2 separate regions of the Homo sapiens genome follow, and region 2 is linked to region 1. Evidence: fine-mapped expression QTL. A gene starts in region 1. The other region holds a variant in brackets. All regions are shown on one strand. Distances are between the middles of the regions. Region 1 holds the start of CCDC85B (coiled-coil domain containing 85B). Region 2 overlaps LOC124902693.

What was found.
Region 2: its variant is fine-mapped to the expression of CCDC85B in whole blood (INTERVAL, PIP above 0.99).

The regions. Positions count from the first base shown.
Region 1 is chr11:65,887,223-65,895,545 of GRCh38, reverse strand. It overlaps CCDC85B (coiled-coil domain containing 85B), which reads right to left and starts at 4,873. Exons shown (of 1, transcript NM_006848.3): 1 at 3,911-4,873. The coding sequence starts at 4,762. The coding sequence ends at 4,154. It overlaps FIBP (FGF1 intracellular binding protein), which reads left to right and starts at 7,075. Exons shown (of 10, transcript NM_004214.5): 1 at 7,075-7,212; 2 at 7,414-7,612; 3 at 7,820-7,946. The coding sequence starts at 7,128. It overlaps FOSL1 (FOS like 1, AP-1 transcription factor subunit), which reads left to right. Exons shown (of 4, transcript NM_005438.5): 3 at 1,425-1,532; 4 at 2,250-3,497. The coding sequence ends at 2,660. RefSeq lists enhancers at 1,212-1,321, 1,424-1,928, 3,213-3,372, 3,413-3,462, 7,105-7,174 and silencers at 4,603-5,082, 6,845-6,984.
Region 2 is chr11:65,804,508-65,812,830 of GRCh38, reverse strand. The region is part of intron 3 of LOC124902693; the gene reads left to right. Among named protein-coding and RNA genes, the nearest start is that of OVOL1-AS1, 18 kb to the right of the region's middle. The variant A/G (reference allele first, on the strand shown) is at 3,499.

The sequences.
Region 1 (8,323 bases):
ACTCAATGTGGAATAGAGTGAGTGAGTTCTATGGGTTCTAAGTCCTGCTCTGGAACCATAAGTAAGTTATCCTCTCTGGGCTTCAGTTTTTCATGGAAAGTTGCGTTAAGAATCTAGTTTAAGGCCAGGCATGGTGGCTCACGCCTGTAATCCCAGCACTTTGGGAGGCCAAGGAAGGTGGATCATGAGGTCAGGAGATCGAGACCATCCTGGCTAACATGATGAAACCGTGTCTCTACTAAAAAATACAAAAAATTAGCTGGGCGTGGTGGAAGGCACCTGTAGTCGCAGCTACTCGGGAGGCTGAGGCAGGAGAATGGCGTGAACCCCGGAGGCGGAGCTTGCAGTGAGCCGAGATGGCACCACTGCACTCCAGCCTGGGCAACAGAGTGAGACTCCGTCTCAAAAAAAAAAAAAAAAAAGAATCTATGTTTTTTTAAAAAAGAGGCCAGCTGTGGTGACTCCCCCTGGTAATCCAAACATTCTAGGAGGCCAGTGCAGGAGGATCCCTTGAGCCCATGAGTTCCAGACCAGCCTGGGCAACACAGTGAGACCCCGTCACTACACAAAAAAAAAAAAGAAAAAAAAAGGCCGAGCACAGTGGCTCATGCCTGTAATCCCAGCACTTTGGGAGGCTGAGGAGGGTGGATCACCTGAGGTTAAGAGTTCAAGACCAGCCTGGCCAACATGGTGAAACCTCGTCTCTACTAAAAATACAAAAATTAGCCAGGTGTGGTGGTACATGCCTGTAATCCCAGCTACTTGGGAGGCTGAGGCACGAGAATCACTTGAACCCAGTAGGTGGAGGTTGCAGTGAGCCAAGATTGGGCCAATGCACTCCAGCCTGGGAAAGAGTGAGACTCTGTCTAAAAAAAATAAAATAAAATAAAATAAAATCTTTGCATGTTCTCAGTGAAAAACAAGAATCTACGTAAAGTACTTGGCTGGCACATAGTAGTTTTCCAATAAATTGCAACTTAATCAGCAGCACTCATTAGCCCCTCCTAGTGCTTACAGCTCATGGAAGAGGAGACTTGGTTGTCCACAGATCCAGAAGGATGAGGGTCCTGCAAAGAGGGTGCTGAGAAGGAAAGGTCACTTCTGGCTGGGGAATAAGACGGCTTCCTGGAGGCAGGAGCATCTTAGTTGAGTCCTGGGAGATGAGGAGGGTTAGGGTTTGCGGAGGGGGAGGGCATTATGGGAGAGGAATGTGCACTAAAGCTAGGTGCGAGGAGGAAATTTTACCAATCAAAGCAGACAGCGCCTCAGTGCAGGGAACTGGTTGGGTGCAGTGATCCCTAAATCACCGGCTGAGGGGGCCCTGCCATGACCTCTGCCAGGGTCCTACCACTGGGCCACCATGAGGGGCGAGTTCCAGGCAGCCAGTAGCCCAGGGTCCTCCTCACTGCGGGTCTCACCCCCAGATCAGCCCGGAGGAAGAGGAGCGCCGCCGAGTAAGGCGCGAGCGGAACAAGCTGGCTGCGGCCAAGTGCAGGAACCGGAGGAAGGAACTGACCGACTTCCTGCAGGCGGTGAGCACCAGCCCTGGTCCACCGAGCTCAGAGGGACCCTGTCTCCCAGAGCCCCCAGAGCCCCAGTATATGTAGCCCCCTCCTCACCATCCTAGCTCCTTGTCTGAGGGGCAGTCCTTCTGGGAAAATGATGAGGAAAAATTGATTAGAAACTGGCTGCAGCATGTCTCACTCACAGCAGAGCTGAAGCTCAGCCAGCAATCTCCTTTTTTTTTTGAGACAGAGTCTCGCTCTGTCACCCAGGCTGGAGTGCAGTGATGAGATCTCGGCTCATGGCTCACTGTGACATCTGTCTCCCAGGCTCCAGCAATTCTTATGCCTCAGCCTGCTGAGTACCTGGGGCTACAGGCGCCTGCCTCCCTACCCGACTAATTTTTGTATTTTTAGTAGAGACGGGGTTTCGCCAAGTTAGCCAGGCTGGTCTCAAACTCCTGGTCTCAAGTGATCCGCCCGCCTCAGCCTCCCAAAGTGCTGGGATTACAGGCCGGAGTCACTGCCTGGTGCCAGCAATCTCCTAAAACGTCTGGGCCTGATGGGAGTTGTGCCCATTTTCTCCCAGGGGCTTATGGGAGTTGTAGTCCAGACTTGCTGGGGACTCTCCACTGCCCCCCCTCTCCCCCCGCCCAACCCCAGCTCCTCAGAACCCTGAGTCCAAACGTCTGCGGCTCTGGGGTATTCAGCCCTCACCTTTCTGACTCCTCTCCTGATCTTCTACAGGAGACTGACAAACTGGAAGATGAGAAATCTGGGCTGCAGCGAGAGATTGAGGAGCTGCAGAAGCAGAAGGAGCGCCTAGAGCTGGTGCTGGAAGCCCACCGACCCATCTGCAAAATCCCGGAAGGAGCCAAGGAGGGGGACACAGGCAGTACCAGTGGCACCAGCAGCCCACCAGCCCCCTGCCGCCCTGTACCTTGTATCTCCCTTTCCCCAGGGCCTGTGCTTGAACCTGAGGCACTGCACACCCCCACACTCATGACCACACCCTCCCTAACTCCTTTCACCCCCAGCCTGGTCTTCACCTACCCCAGCACTCCTGAGCCTTGTGCCTCAGCTCATCGCAAGAGTAGCAGCAGCAGCGGAGACCCATCCTCTGACCCCCTTGGCTCTCCAACCCTCCTCGCTTTGTGAGGCGCCTGAGCCCTACTCCCTGCAGATGCCACCCTAGCCAATGTCTCCTCCCCTTCCCCCACCGGTCCAGCTGGCCTGGACAGTATCCCACATCCAACTCCAGCAACTTCTTCTCCATCCCTCTAATGAGACTGACCATATTGTGCTTCACAGTAGAGCCAGCTTGGGGCCACCAAAGCTGCCCACTGTTTCTCTTGAGCTGGCCTCTCTAGCACAATTTGCACTAAATCAGAGACAAAATATTTCCCATTTGTGCCAGAGGAATCCTGGCAGCCCAGAGACTTTGTAGATCCTTAGAGGTCCTCTGGAGCCCTAACCCCTTCCAGATCACTGCCACACTCTCCATCACCCTCTTCCTGTGATCCACCCAACCCTATCTCCTGACAGAAGGTGCCACTTTACCCACCTAGAACACTAACTCACCAGCCCCACTGCCAGCAGCAGCAGGTGATTGGACCAGGCCATTCTGCCGCCCCCTCCTGAACCGCACAGCTCAGGAGGCGCCCTTGGCTTCTGTGATGAGCTGATCTGCGGATCTCAGCTTTGAGAAGCCTTCAGCTCCAGGGAATCCAAGCCTCCACAGCGAGGGCAGCTGCTATTTATTTTCCTAAAGAGAGTATTTTTATACAAACCTACCAAAATGGAATAAAAGGCTTGAAGCTGTGGCCTGAGTGCCTCACTGGACCCAGAGGCCAATGGGAGAGTATTTGGAGCCCTAGGTCCCAGCCTTAGCTCTACAGACTCACTGCATGACCTTGGACAAATTCTTTGATATTTTTGGACTTTGTCTTATCTGACAAGTGGGGCTACATCCGCTCGGCCTCATCTCCGGGACTGAGGGGAGACAGTCCTCTGGGGTAAAAGCGAAGAGGCTTACCGCCCCTCTCCCCGTGGGGGCCCACAGTGCTGCTGCGTGTGCCACGGAGGGGCGCTGTTATGCCCCCTTCCAGCCTCAGAGGAGGCGGCCGAGTGGTTCTAGGCCCCCAGCACCTGCTTCCTGCCCCATTGTCTTGGACAGGAAGGAGCCGGGAAGGGAGCTGGAGCCACTTCAGGGGCTGGATTAAGGCCGGTCCCGGCGCCCGATGGGGGAAGTCTGGTTTACCACTGCCCCGCATCCCACCCCAGGCTCGAAGTAATGGGGGAATCATTAGTTCTGCAGTCCTTCTGGATGGGAATTGTACCCTGTATCAGCACCCCACCCTCGCCCCAACCCCGGCGAGTACCAAACAGACGCTGCCCAGGCCGTGGGCTCCGCTTCCGTCCGGGTTTATTACCCCCAATCCAACCCCCAGCAAGTCCCTCCGCTCCAGCCTTCAGTCCCCCTGCTGCCCTGCCAGCAAGAGCGAGGGGCCCTTCTTGGTGTCAGGATTTCTTAGTCCATGCCAGCGGCCCCTCCTGCGCAGCCAGGACGGCGTCCAGGTCCCGAGGTCCACAGCGGTCCCGGGGCTCGGGGAGCAATCCGGGCGGGCGTCGGCGTGGAGGAAGCAGTGCCTTCAATCATCGGGGGAACAGGCCAGGGGCAACTGATCCGGACTGCCCACGCTGCCAGTGCTGGAGCTTCCATCGCCTAGGTCGCGGGGCCCGCACGGGGGCAAGGCAAGCTCGGGTGCTGGCCCGGCTCCTGATCCCCCGGCGCCGCTGGGGCCGCCGCGGGGGCCCCATTCTTCGCCCAGCGCCAGGCAGAGCTCCTTAAGCGCTAGGTTCTCCCGCAGCAGCTCCTCCTGGCGGCCCTCCAGCTCGGCCAGCTTCTGCCAACAGCCGCCCAGGTCCTCGCGCACGGCCCGGGATGCTTGGGTCCCGAAGAGCTGCCACTGGCGTGCGGCGCGCCGCCCGCGCTGGCGCTCCGAGTCCAGGAAGCAGCAGAGGTCGCGCAGCTCACGGTTCTCTGCCTGCAGACGCCGGTTGAGCTGCTTGAGCTCGCGGATCTCGCCCAGGTGGCCCTGCAGCTGCCGATTCACCTCCTGCATGAGGCGGCCGCGCTGCACCAGTGCCGCCAGGCGCGCCGCCTCCTCCCGCCGCAGGCGCCGCACTAGCTCTTCCTTGCCTAGCGCCGCCATCTCCTCGTCCGTCAGCTCCTCCAGGCCGCCTGCCTCGGCCTCCATGGCTGGTCAGGCCTCTGGAGCATCGCCCGCCCGCCGCCGCGGCCCAGGAGCCCCACGTCGGGCCCGGCGCCACTCAGGCTCGGGCTCCGGCTCCGCACGCGGCAGGCAGTGGCCGAGGCAGCGTAGGCTGCAGCAGCTACCCGGGCTGGGCACGCGGCGGGGCGCGCGCCGGGGCGGGGCCGCATGTCGTTATGGAAGGACAGCCAATCCGGTGAAACGTCCCCGGAAAGGGGCGGGGCCTGAGCTCAGGGGCCGCCCCCCTCGTTCCCCACCCACTCCGGGTGTTACTGATCCTCGATGTCAAGGAACCCGCGCGTCATCGCCCTCCACATCGGTCTCAACCCGAAACTAGGAGCTTCGAACCTCCAAGTACCGGATCGCCCCAAGCTTGAGCCTAGGCCTCTCGGCTCTTCTGAGAAACAAGATTCAGGCGTCCGCCCCTGACTCCTGCCCATCCCCCACAGAAGTCAGATGGACCGCTCTCCAGTCCCTCTTTACCTTTGATCAAATTCGGAAGTCTCGGCCCACTAAGGATCGCTCCTGGTTCCTCGGAACCCTGAGTCCAAACGTCCTAGCTCACCAATAGACTACCCTCCCTCCCAGGGAGCGTTTCCTGCCTGGGGGGAGGAACATACAGGATTCGTTTGTTCAATAAACGTTTTTTATGTGCAAGGCCCATGCAGAAATAAATTTAACCAAAATACCGATTCCATCCTCAAGGAGGTCGCAGTCTGTCCGGGAAGTCAAGCTGTGTTAAGCAAGAAATAAATCCGGGAGGAGTATGGTCTGAGGGTCCTTAAGAGGGTTCCCAAAAGAGATGCTATCCAAGAGGCTCTGGTAGATCCATAGGACTTTGCCAAGTAAAGAGCTATTTCAGGGAGAGAGAATAACATAGTGAAAGACACTGGTGCCCGAAAGAGCCTAGCTGCTTTAGGAACAATGAGGATAGCTTGGTTTTTGAAAAGCAGATGTGTCGAGAAAATGCTAAGAGAGAGAGAGCGAGGCTTCAAAGGTAGGTAAAAGCCAGATTCTTAAGAACTTCCAGTACCAGGTTGGAGCATTTCCAAAGGCCACTAAGGATGTTAAGCAAGAGAGTAACATTTGTAAGGATGTTAAGCAAGGGAGTAACATTTTAAAATATGCCTTTAACTGGCCAAGATGGTGAAACCCCGTTTCTACTAAAAATACAAAAATTAGCCGGGCGTGGTGGGAGGAGCCTGTAATCTCAGCTACTCGGGAGGCTGAGGCAGAGAACTGCTTGAACCCGGGAGGCGGAGGTTGCAGTGAGCCGAGATCGCGCCACTGCACTCCAGCCTGGGCGACAGAGCGAGACGCTGTCTCGAAAAAAAAAATGTATTTAAAAAGATTGGGCTGATCTGTGTGGGCCGGACCCTGCGGGGAGGGGACATAAACAGGGAGATTAGTAACGGTGTCAAAGAGCAAGAGCAAGGAGAGCTAAGCAGAAAGACGGCTGGGGCAGCATCAGTGGGGGTGGAGAGGACAAACAGATACTAGAAATATTCGGGAGGCAAATCAGCCGAACTGAATGTGGGGAGAGAGGAGTCTGGAAGAACGCCCAGGTTTCTCGTATGAGAACTGGTGGATGTTAGGGCTGTCACTGAGATAGGGACGCAGGAAAGAAACAAATGGGGAGAGGCAGAGGTCTGTCTAGAATATGTTGAGCTTTTGAGGGGCTTACGGGAAGAGTGTGGATAGACTTGGCCGATAGGCGGCCCCTCCGGATGTGGACTTCCAGGCAGAGCTCGGAGGGGCAGAATTAGAGACGTCAGTAGCTCGTGGGGCTGGGGGTGGGATTAAAACCAAGGTGGGAGCAGGTGCCCCAAACCCAGGAGAGGTGCTCATGCGCAGGATGGACAAACCAGTCTCCAGCAAGAGCCCGAGGAAGTCGGGTCATACCCCATTTTTGCGGAGATTTAGGATAGAGCCCTGTGAAACCCCTAAGTTTAGGATACAGGTCAAACTTAGGAGGTCCCGAAGAGGGCAGAGAAGGTGGGAGAAAAGCCAGGAGGAAGTGAGGGGAGAAGTTACGGGGACCGAGGAGACGAAGAGGAGGCACTCCCTTCGTGCTCCTGCAGACGGCCGGGGAGGGAGACAGGACGCAGGAGCCCGGGACTCCCCCTCCCGGCGGGAGGAAGCGGTGCTCCTCCGCGCAGGCCTCCCCCTCTCTTCCCTCGCCGCTCCCGCCCCGTCCCCTCCCCGACTGGCTGTGTCCCGGAAGTGGTCATAAGCTGGGTCCCGATGCCGCGAGCGGAATCTCGGCGCTCCCGGAAGTGGCCTGAAGGCGGCGCGCCAGTCCCGAGCAGTGCTCGCTCCTGCTCGGGGCGCTGCGGCCCCGGGCGTCGCCATGACCAGTGAGCTGGACATCTTCGTGGGGAACACGACCCTTATCGACGAGGACGTGTATCGCCTCTGGCTCGATGGTTACTCGGGTCCGTGAGGGGCGTGTGGGGAAGCCAGTCGGCGGAGCGGTTGTGTTGAATGGGAGAGGGGGCGGGGCTAAGACTTGGGCATCCTTTAGGGAAGTGGGCGAGCGCCTGGGAATAAGAGGTGTTATAGGGGTCTGGGATGGAAACCCTTAAGGGCCTCTGGCGTCGGCGGGGCGGGGCCTGATGCTAGCGTCCGCTTTCCAGTGACCGACGCGGTGGCCCTGCGGGTGCGCTCGGGAATCCTGGAGCAGACTGGCGCCACGGCAGCGGTGCTGCAGAGCGACACCATGGACCATTACCGCACCTTCCACATGCTCGAGCGGCTGCTGCATGCGCCGCCCAAGCTACTGCACCAGCTCATCTTCCAGATTCCGCCCTCCCGGCAGGCACTACTCATCGAGAGGTGCTCACCCTCTGGGATGGTGGAGACATCAACCAGTCTGACTGTATACCCATTTTGCCGGCTGAAACAGGCCCAGGGAGGGATGGGATTTACCCAGCCATCAGAAAGTTGAGAGTGGAAGGGGTCAGACCTAGGCCCTGCTAGGCCCCGCCAGACTCCCTTTCCTGTCTTTTATGGAGGGTCAATGGTGTTCTCTGACTCCACAAGGTACTATGCCTTTGATGAGGCCTTTGTTCGGGAGGTGCTGGGCAAGAAGCTGTCCAAAGGCACCAAGAAAGACCTGGATGACATCAGCACCAAAACAGGCATCACCCTCAAGAGCTGCCGGAGACAGGTATGCACTGCATCCACACGGACACAGCATCCCATCTACACTTCACTCCCTCCCTTTGGCCACTGGCCCAGTTCCAGCCTCTGATTGTGGCAGCAGCTTCATACCTAGTCTTCTCCTCCCTTCCCCTTTCCCCTCCTTTTTTTTTTTTTTTTTCGAGATGGAGTCTTGCTCTGTGGCCCAAGCTGGAGTGCAGTGGCGCGACCTCAGCTCACTGCAACCTCCGCCTCCTGGGTTCAGGTAATTCTTGTGCCTCAGCCTCTGCAGTAGCTGAGATTACAGGCGCCCGCTCCCACACCCAGCTAATTTTTGTATTGTTAGTAGAGACAGGGTTTCACCATGTTGGCCAGGCTTGTCTTGAACTCCTGGCCTCAAGTGAT
Region 2 (8,323 bases), 83 kb after region 1:
GTTCAAGCGATTCTCCTGTCTCAGCCTCCTGGGTAGCTGGAATTACATGTGCCCACCACCACACCCGACTAAGTTTTCGTATTTTTAGCAGAGACGGGATTTCATCATATTGGTCAGGCTGGTGTCGAACTCCTGACGTCAGCTGATCCACCTGCCTTGGCCTCCCAAAGTGCTGGGATCGCAGGTGTGAGCCACCGCACCCAGCCCCCATTCACTTTTGTTTTAGGAAATGAGAAAGCTTCTGCCTTTTTTCTTTCCTTCCTTCCTTGGATGTTAGTTAAGATCAGTGAGGTAATGGTGATAAAGTACTTTGAATTACCTCAAGGAGAGTGCAGCCCAACTTGTTATTATTTACCTAGGTCAGTTCACAAACCCCCACGATCTAGGGTTCCTGTCTCCTGCCCTGGGGATGGTGCCTGGGAGAAAGGAGATGTCACAGACCCAGTCCCACAGGGCGCTGTTGGCTGGAGTTGGTCATTCCTTACTTTGACATCAACAGGCTTATCTCTAGAAATAGGCTAAATGGTAGCTCAGGCGCCGGTGTTGCCTCATCCCGCAAACTCCCAGGGAGGCTGCCTACTTCCAGCCCCTGTTCTGGGAACTAATGATAGGTGGGATGAAAAGACTGTTTCCTCTGATGCGCTTTTATGAGTTGTTTTCGAAGATGAGGTGGCAAGGACATGGTTAACCCGCTCCCTTGTGCAGGGAGACATCAGAATGACAGGGCACGGGGAATCTCCCCAACCCGTTCCCAGGAGAGCTCTTGCCGAGGACGGCCCAGCTGTTAGCCAGAAATCAAGGCAGCCTCAAGCCCTGTAACCCAGATATCAGTGGGCTTTTTCGGCTGACGGTGCTGTGGCCTGCGGCAGGCGGCAGTGTGGGTAGAGGACAGCTGTGGCTGAGGCCGGCAGCTCTTTCCACACGACTTCTTGGGTAATGGCTCTTCTTAAGCCTGTGATATTTAGGGATTGTCAAACTTCCCTTTCATCCTGAGCCACCTTCCCTCATGGGTAGCAGAGGAGTTGGATTTCTTTCTTTTCTTTTCTTTTTTCTTTTTCTTTTTCGACAGAGTCTTGCTCTGTCGCCCAGGCTGGAGGGCAGTGGTATGATCTCTGCTCACTGCAACCTCCACCTCCCGGGTTCAAGTGATTCTTCTGCCTCAGCCGCCCGAGTAGCTGGGATTACAGGCACGCACCACCACGCCCAGCTAATTTTTGTATTTTTAGTAGAGATGGGGTTTCACCATGTTGGTCAGGCTGGTCTCGAACTCTTGACCTCAGGTGATCCACCTGCCTTGGCCTCCCAAAGTGCTGGGATTACAGGCGTGAGCCACCAAGCCCGGTCAAGGAGTTGGATTTCTTATGACAAGAGTATTATGGCTGTGTGTCCCAGAGGAGGCACTGTGTCCTCATGAGGGTCCTTCACTGAAAGGAGAGCCTCGAGGACAAAGGAATCTTCTAGAGACGACGTTGGGAGGGAGGAGTGGAGTTTGCAGGTGACTCTAGAGGACCCCAAAGTCCAGTGGGAGCTCATTACCTCCTCGATAGGAGGAGCCTGTTGTTGTATGAGTGAGGAAAGGTGGCAGAACCGAGGCTGAGAGAGGCTGCGAAGATGCAGCAGCAGTGCTGAGGCCTGAGAGGAGGACACGTTCTATTACGCCAATTAATTCTACCCACCGAAAGGGCACATCACATTTTTGGGGTTGCCAAAAGCCGTTCTTAGCAGTAAAAAGTCTGTGAACTGCTGCACTGGGGATTGGCAAAGGCTTGGTAGCCAGCGCATTGAAGAGGGAGGGACAGCAAGCCTCACACCGGGAGTGGATCCTTCCTGTGTTTCTGCCACCACAGTTTGCCAGTTTGATGCCAAGGGACTCTTACTGTTTATGTGTGCATGTTTGTGCTGTTAGATTATCTTCTGAGCAATTTCAAGTTTTAAGAATATGTTGGTGAAGTCAACAATGAACAATTCCAGGAGACTTGGTTCCACCCGGGCCCTGCTCAGGAAAGATGAGGAGCCCCTCCCAACCCCACCCCTGCCTGTCCACATGGCCCTTCCTCCCCATCATCCACCATGGGGCCCTCCTGTGCCACAACATGGCTCTCATCCTTCTGTCTGGACACTTGCCCTGCCTCCTGGAGAGCCAGGCTCCTGCCCTGGCGGGCATGTGAGTGTGCATGTGTGTGAGTGTGCATGTGTGAGTGTGCGTGTTTGCGAGTGTGCACGTGAGTGCACGTCTGAACGTGTGTGGGAGTGTATACGTGAGTGCACGTCTCAACGTGTGTGCGAGTGTGCATGTGTGTGCGAGTGTGTACGCGTGAGTGCACGTGTGCATGTGTGTGCAATTGTGCGTGTGTCTACGTGTGTGCATGTGAGTGCATGTGTGTGTGATTGCGTGTGTGTATAATTGTGCACGTATGTGAGTGTGCATGTGTGTACAATTGTGTGCGTGTGTGTGAGTGTGCATGTGTGTGCATGTGGCACGGAGGGGGAAGAAGAGAGTTCTCCTCTGTGGTGATCGCCACCATTCAGTTGAAGGGTTTAAGCTGAGCCAAGATGAAGCAAGAGTGACACCAAGTGCCAAGAACAAGTGCTTGCTGTGGTATCAGGTGTGCTCTCTCCTCAAATCAGAGGAGCAGAGAGAAGCTCAGTTCCAGTCTGCAGTGTTCACCCCTGTGAGAGGGTGCCGACCCATCCAGAGGTGGCCAGCCCCCTCCAGAGGTGGCTCAGTGCTGGCATGCCACTCTGCCCATTTGGACAAGGGGATGGCCTCTCTGGGAATTGGATGCGGAACCGAAGCTTTGAATAGATTTAAAAAATAAAATCCAAGGTGGGATGTTTTGTTGGCTAGAACATGATGCACAGACCCAGATTGCCGTTCTGGCCCTATTGCTGTCCTTCAGCCCCATTCGGAGAATGACCAGACCCCGAGGCCACAGTAGGACAAAGAAGAAGACTGACCCAGTTCTCTGTTTCCTGCTGCCATGCCCGGGCCTCTGCTGCCAGAAGTCTTCCCCATGAAGCCATAGGTGGGGGACTAAAAGGCATATTCCTGTGGGGTGACCCCGAGAGAGACTGGGCATGGTTTCCACCGAGGCACTGTTGGGGGCAGAGAATTCTTTGGTTGCCGGAGAGGACCACCTGGTGCAGACCAGACCTGCAGCTGCGGCTTCAGGGTAGGAGCATGGCCGCCTTGGTGTCGCCATCTGGCCAGTCCTTGTTCCTACAGTTCCACTCCCAGCCGTGTCCTCAGCTTGTACCCACTTGTTTTTTTCCTTCATGGAAGCTAAGGAGGGGACTGGGTTTGTTTGTCCAGATGCCACCAGTTGGATGACCGTTGCGGGTACAGGAGTGTCTTCACCACGCAGTGCCAGGCCAGGTCCCACCTCACATCTCTATTCCTCATCTGGGAATGCTGGCATCAGCAGGTTGATTCAAAACTAGGAGGTGTTGGGAAACCCCTTGGGCTGGAGATTTCGAACTGAGATTCAGATGAGAAAA[A/G]ACATAGTGGGTGGGGTTCTGAGGCAGGAAGGAGACAGCAAAAGCTCCTGTCCTGACGCTCCGCTCGATAGCGGGGATCAACAGAGCGGCCTGGCATGGTTGGGGGCAGCTGCGCTGGCTGAACCCAGGTGCAAGGCTGGCCCTGGACGGCCTCTCCCACCTCTGGACACAGAGCCGCCCCGTGCCTCTCCATTCACCAGGCAAAACCACACCTGGAGTGGCGCGTTCAGTCTGGGGCATGTTGGCACCAGCAGGTGTGGATAAATCCAAGGGCTCCTTCGGAGGGAGGGCAGGGGAGGAGGGCTGGCAGGAGTATGGGGAGAAAAGCTGTTTGAAAAGATTGTAAAAGGCTGTGGGAGAATTCAGAGAGGGGGCGAGTGATGAAGGGAGGACCACGCAGCTCAGGAGCCACAGCCTGGGTGGCCTGGGCGGCAAGGGCAGCCCCCATTCTGCTGTTGAGTGGCTGTCTTGCCGTCTGCACTCCCTCGTCATACAGTCCTCCCTGTGCGTTAGCTCAGGACAGCCTGGCATCGGTGGCTCCTGGTGGCAGGTGCCTGTGACATGAAGAGCACAGAGGAAGACGCTGGCTAGATCCAGAGGCAGAGAGAGGAGGACATGAGGAGAAGGTGAGGGAAACTGAGGAACAAGGAGAGGAAGAGCAATTAAAATGATTCCTTGAAAGAAAAGGAGGTAAAACAGAAAACGTGGCGAGGGGTATCCTAGAAGGAGCAGAAAAGGAAGGAAAAAAAGGGTGAACATTGTCTTTCATTTGAAGGACTTGGAGTGGCACAGTCAAGAACGAGTCTCCAAACACAGTCAGTACTCAGAAAGCTCATCATTGGATTTGTAAATCCATTTCATCTGGGTGGACTGAAGAACGTGGTACCCTCTGAGGATGTCAGGGCCCATATTGTGGGAAAGTCAAGAGTGGCGCCGCAACAAACTAGCTAATCAGTTATGAACACGAGGGGCTCATGATTCATGAGCCTGCCCATCTATCTCGTGCAGGGTGGAGACCCATCTAACCGGAACCACCACCCAGCCTCTCCCAGCCTCCTTAGATGACAAGCTCTGGCATCCTCGGTCCACCCAACTCAGCCCCCAAGCATTTCGCCAAAACATCAGTAAGCAGGTATAGGTGAAGGAGGTCACAGGTGTCTCCATTTTGTGCCGTTTTCTCTCCTTCCCAGTGCTCAGCACACGACTAACCAGGGGTTCTCATCAGGGGCCGTATATTCACTCCTGAAAGGGTAGTCAGCAGGTCACCAAACACCTTCCTCTGAACTCAGAATAAGTTTATTTTTACTTAATTTTTTAAATTAAAATAAATTTTTTTAGGCCGGGTGCAGTGGCTCACGCCTGTAATCCCAGCACTTTGAGAGGCTGAGGTGGGCGGATCACAAGGTCAGGAGTTCAAGACCAGCCTGGCCAATATGGTGAAACCCCATCTCTAAAAAATACAAAAAAAATTACCCGGGCGTGGTTGCGCATGCCTGTAATCCCAGCTACTCGGGAGGCTGAGGCAGGAGAGTTGCTTGAACCTGGGAGGCAGAGGTTGCAGTGAACCGAGATCCTGCCACTGCACTCCAGCCTGGGCAACAGTGTAGGACTCTCTCACAAAAAAAAAAAAAAAAAAAAAAAAAAAAAATTCTGGGACAGAGTCTCGTTCTGTTCACACAGGCTGGAATGCTGTGGTGTCATCATAGCTCACTATAACCTCAAACTCCTGGGCTCGAGTGATCCTCCCACCTCAGCCTCCCAAGTAGCTGGGACTATAGGCCCTGCCACTGTATCTGGCTAATTTTTAAATATTTTGCAGAAACGGGATCTCACAATGTTGGTCTGAAACTCCTGAGCTCATGTGATCCTCCTGCCTCAGCCTCCCGAGTTGCTGGGATTACAGGCATGAGCCGCCGTGCCCAGCTAGTTTATTTTTATATTCTGTATTACTGTGGACCGGAAAATCCAAGAGTTTGCCTGTACCCTATGGGAAAATTGTCTCTCAGCTGCAACGTGCCCAGCGTTCTCAGCAGTCAGGGCAAATTCAACTACAGCAGCCACCGCCCATCTTACCGAAGCTAAACCAGACATGGATGTTATTATCTGCTGCATCCAGCATTTGTTTAGAGCTTTCTGCTTCACAAAGCAACTCATTATCTTAATCTTCACCATCATCCTACATTGCTCTTACTTCCACTTTATGAACAGTCAGTCTCAGAAAGCTAAGGCATCTTCCTCAAAGCAGCTGTAGGATTCAAACTGTGTGTCCGGGGACTCCAGATTCTTTGTGCTTTCTACACATTTAGATTTCATGGTAACATCAAAAATCAGGATTCCTGGATCTGGAGCAGTTTATTCCCTCGGCCTTCCTCCCACCCATTGCCATCCCAGCCCATTTCTATAACCATCAAATGGGCAATGTTTTTTTTTTTTTTTTTTTTTTGAGACATGGTCTCACTCTGTCACCCAGGCTGGAGGGCGGTGGCGCAATCTCGGCTCACTGCAACCTCTGCCTCCCAGGTTCAAGCGATTCTCCTGCCTCAGCCTCCTGAGTAGCTGGGATTACAGGCGCCCGCCAGCAAGCCCTGCTAATTTTTTTGTATTTTTAGTAGAGATGGGGTTTCGCCATGTTGGCCAGGCTGGTCTCAAACTCCTGACCTCAAGTGATCCACCCGCTTCGGCCTCCCAAAGTGCTGGGATTACAGGCGTGAGCCACCGCGGCCGGCCTAAATTGGCAAGAATTTTCACTGTTCAATGAAGAACATCCTTTTGCAGCCAATTATTCCAACATTGCCTTCCTGAAGGACTCTTTCAAAATCATCAAGAAGATTTCACTACAAAAGCAATATGGGAATATTGTAGAAAAAAGTACGAAATATAGAAAAAAGAAAATAAAAGTCATAATTCTGCCATTGAACAAGAATTTAAGATTTTTACTTCCATGATTTTTACTACAGACATATGGACTGACTTACGTTTATAAAAATGACAAGGGTGCCTACCCCATAATACTGTTTTGGAACCTGCTTTTAAATTTAATATATTGTAAGCATTTTCCTGAAATATTTTTTGCCATCATATTTAAGAGATACACATATTTCATTATAGTTTTTCTTTTTTTGAGACAGGGTCTCACTCTGTTGTCCAGGCTACAGGGTACAGTGGTGTGATCTCAGCTCACTGCAATCTCCGTCTCCCAGGTTCAAGCAATTCTTGTGCCTCAGTTTCCCAAGTAGCTGGGACTACAGGAGCACGCTACCACGCCCGGCTAATTTTTTTTGTATTTTTTGGTAGAGACGGGGTTTCACCATGTTGGCCAGGCTGATCTTGAACTCCTGACCTCAAGTAATCCGCCTGCCTTGCCCTCCCAGAGTGCTGGGATTACAAGTGTGAGCCACCACACACAGCTTACTTAATTATAATTTTTAATGTACTCAGGTTAAATATTTAGATTGTTTCTACTTTTTCAATATTATAACTAGTTTTATGATAGGCTTTTTTTTTTTTTTTTTTTTTGAGCTAGAGTCTTGCTCTGTCGCCCAGGCTGGAGTGCAATGGCATGATCTCGGCTCATTGCAACCTCTGCCTCCCAGGTTCAAGCTAGTCTCCTGCCTCAGCCTCCTGAGTAGTTGGGATTGTAGGCACGTGCCACCACACCTGGCTAATTTTTGTATTTTTAGTAGAGACGGGGTTTCACCACATTGGTCAGGCTGGTCTTAAACTCCTGACCTGGTGATCTGCCCACCTCAGCCTCCCAAAGTGCTGGGATTACAGGCACAAGCCACCACACCCAGCCTCTTTTTTTTTTTTTTTTTTTTTTTTAGAGATGGAGGTCTCACCATGTTGGCCAGGTTGGTCTTGAACTCCTGGCCTCAAGCAATCCGCCCGCCTCAGCCTCCCAAAGTGCTAGGATTACAAGCGTGAGCCACCACACTGGGCCTTGATAGACTTGCTTATAGGTAACAGATACCTAATTTTCATTTTTATTCCTTGGATTATGAATGAAGTTGAATTTTTTTCATATAATTGTTATCATTTGAAGCTGTTTTATGAATAATCCATACTGTTTGCCAGCTTCCCATGGTACATATTTTATTTTTTATATTTTTATTTTTTGCTCTGTTGCCCAGGTGGAGTGCAGTGGTGCAATCTTGGCTCACTGCAACATGCACCTCTTGGGTTCAAGCAATTCTCATGCCTTAGCCTCCTGAGTAGCTGGGATTAGAGGTGCGCACCACCATGCCCGGCTAATTTTTTGTGTTTTTTTTTTTTTAGTAGAGACAGGGTTTTGCCATGTTGCCCAGGCTGGTCTCGAACTCCTGGGCTCAAGTGATCTGCCCACCTCTGCCTCCCAAAGTGCTGGGATTACAGGCGTGAGCCACCACGCCTGCCTGCCTGCCTGCCTCCCTCCCTCCCTCCCTCCTTCCTTCCTTCCTTCCTTCGTCCTTTCTCTCTCTCTTTCTTTTCTTTCTTTCTTGAGACGGAGTTTCGCTCTCATTGCCCAGGCTGGAGCGCAATGGTGCGATCTCGGCTCACCGCAACCTCTGCCTCCCGGGTTAAGGCAATTCTCCTGCCTTAGCCTCCCAAATAGCTGGGATTACAGGCATATGCCACCACGCCCAGCTAATTTTTTGTATTTTTAGTAGAGATGAGGTTTCTCCATGTTGGTCAGTCTGGTCTCGAACTCCCAACCTCAGGTGATCCACCCTCCTTGGCCTCCCAAAGTGCTGGGATTACAGGTGTAAGCCACTGCGCCCGGCCACCTTTTATTTTTCTTACAGATATGTAGGAACTCTTTATATTAAGGCTGAAATTTCAAACCCCA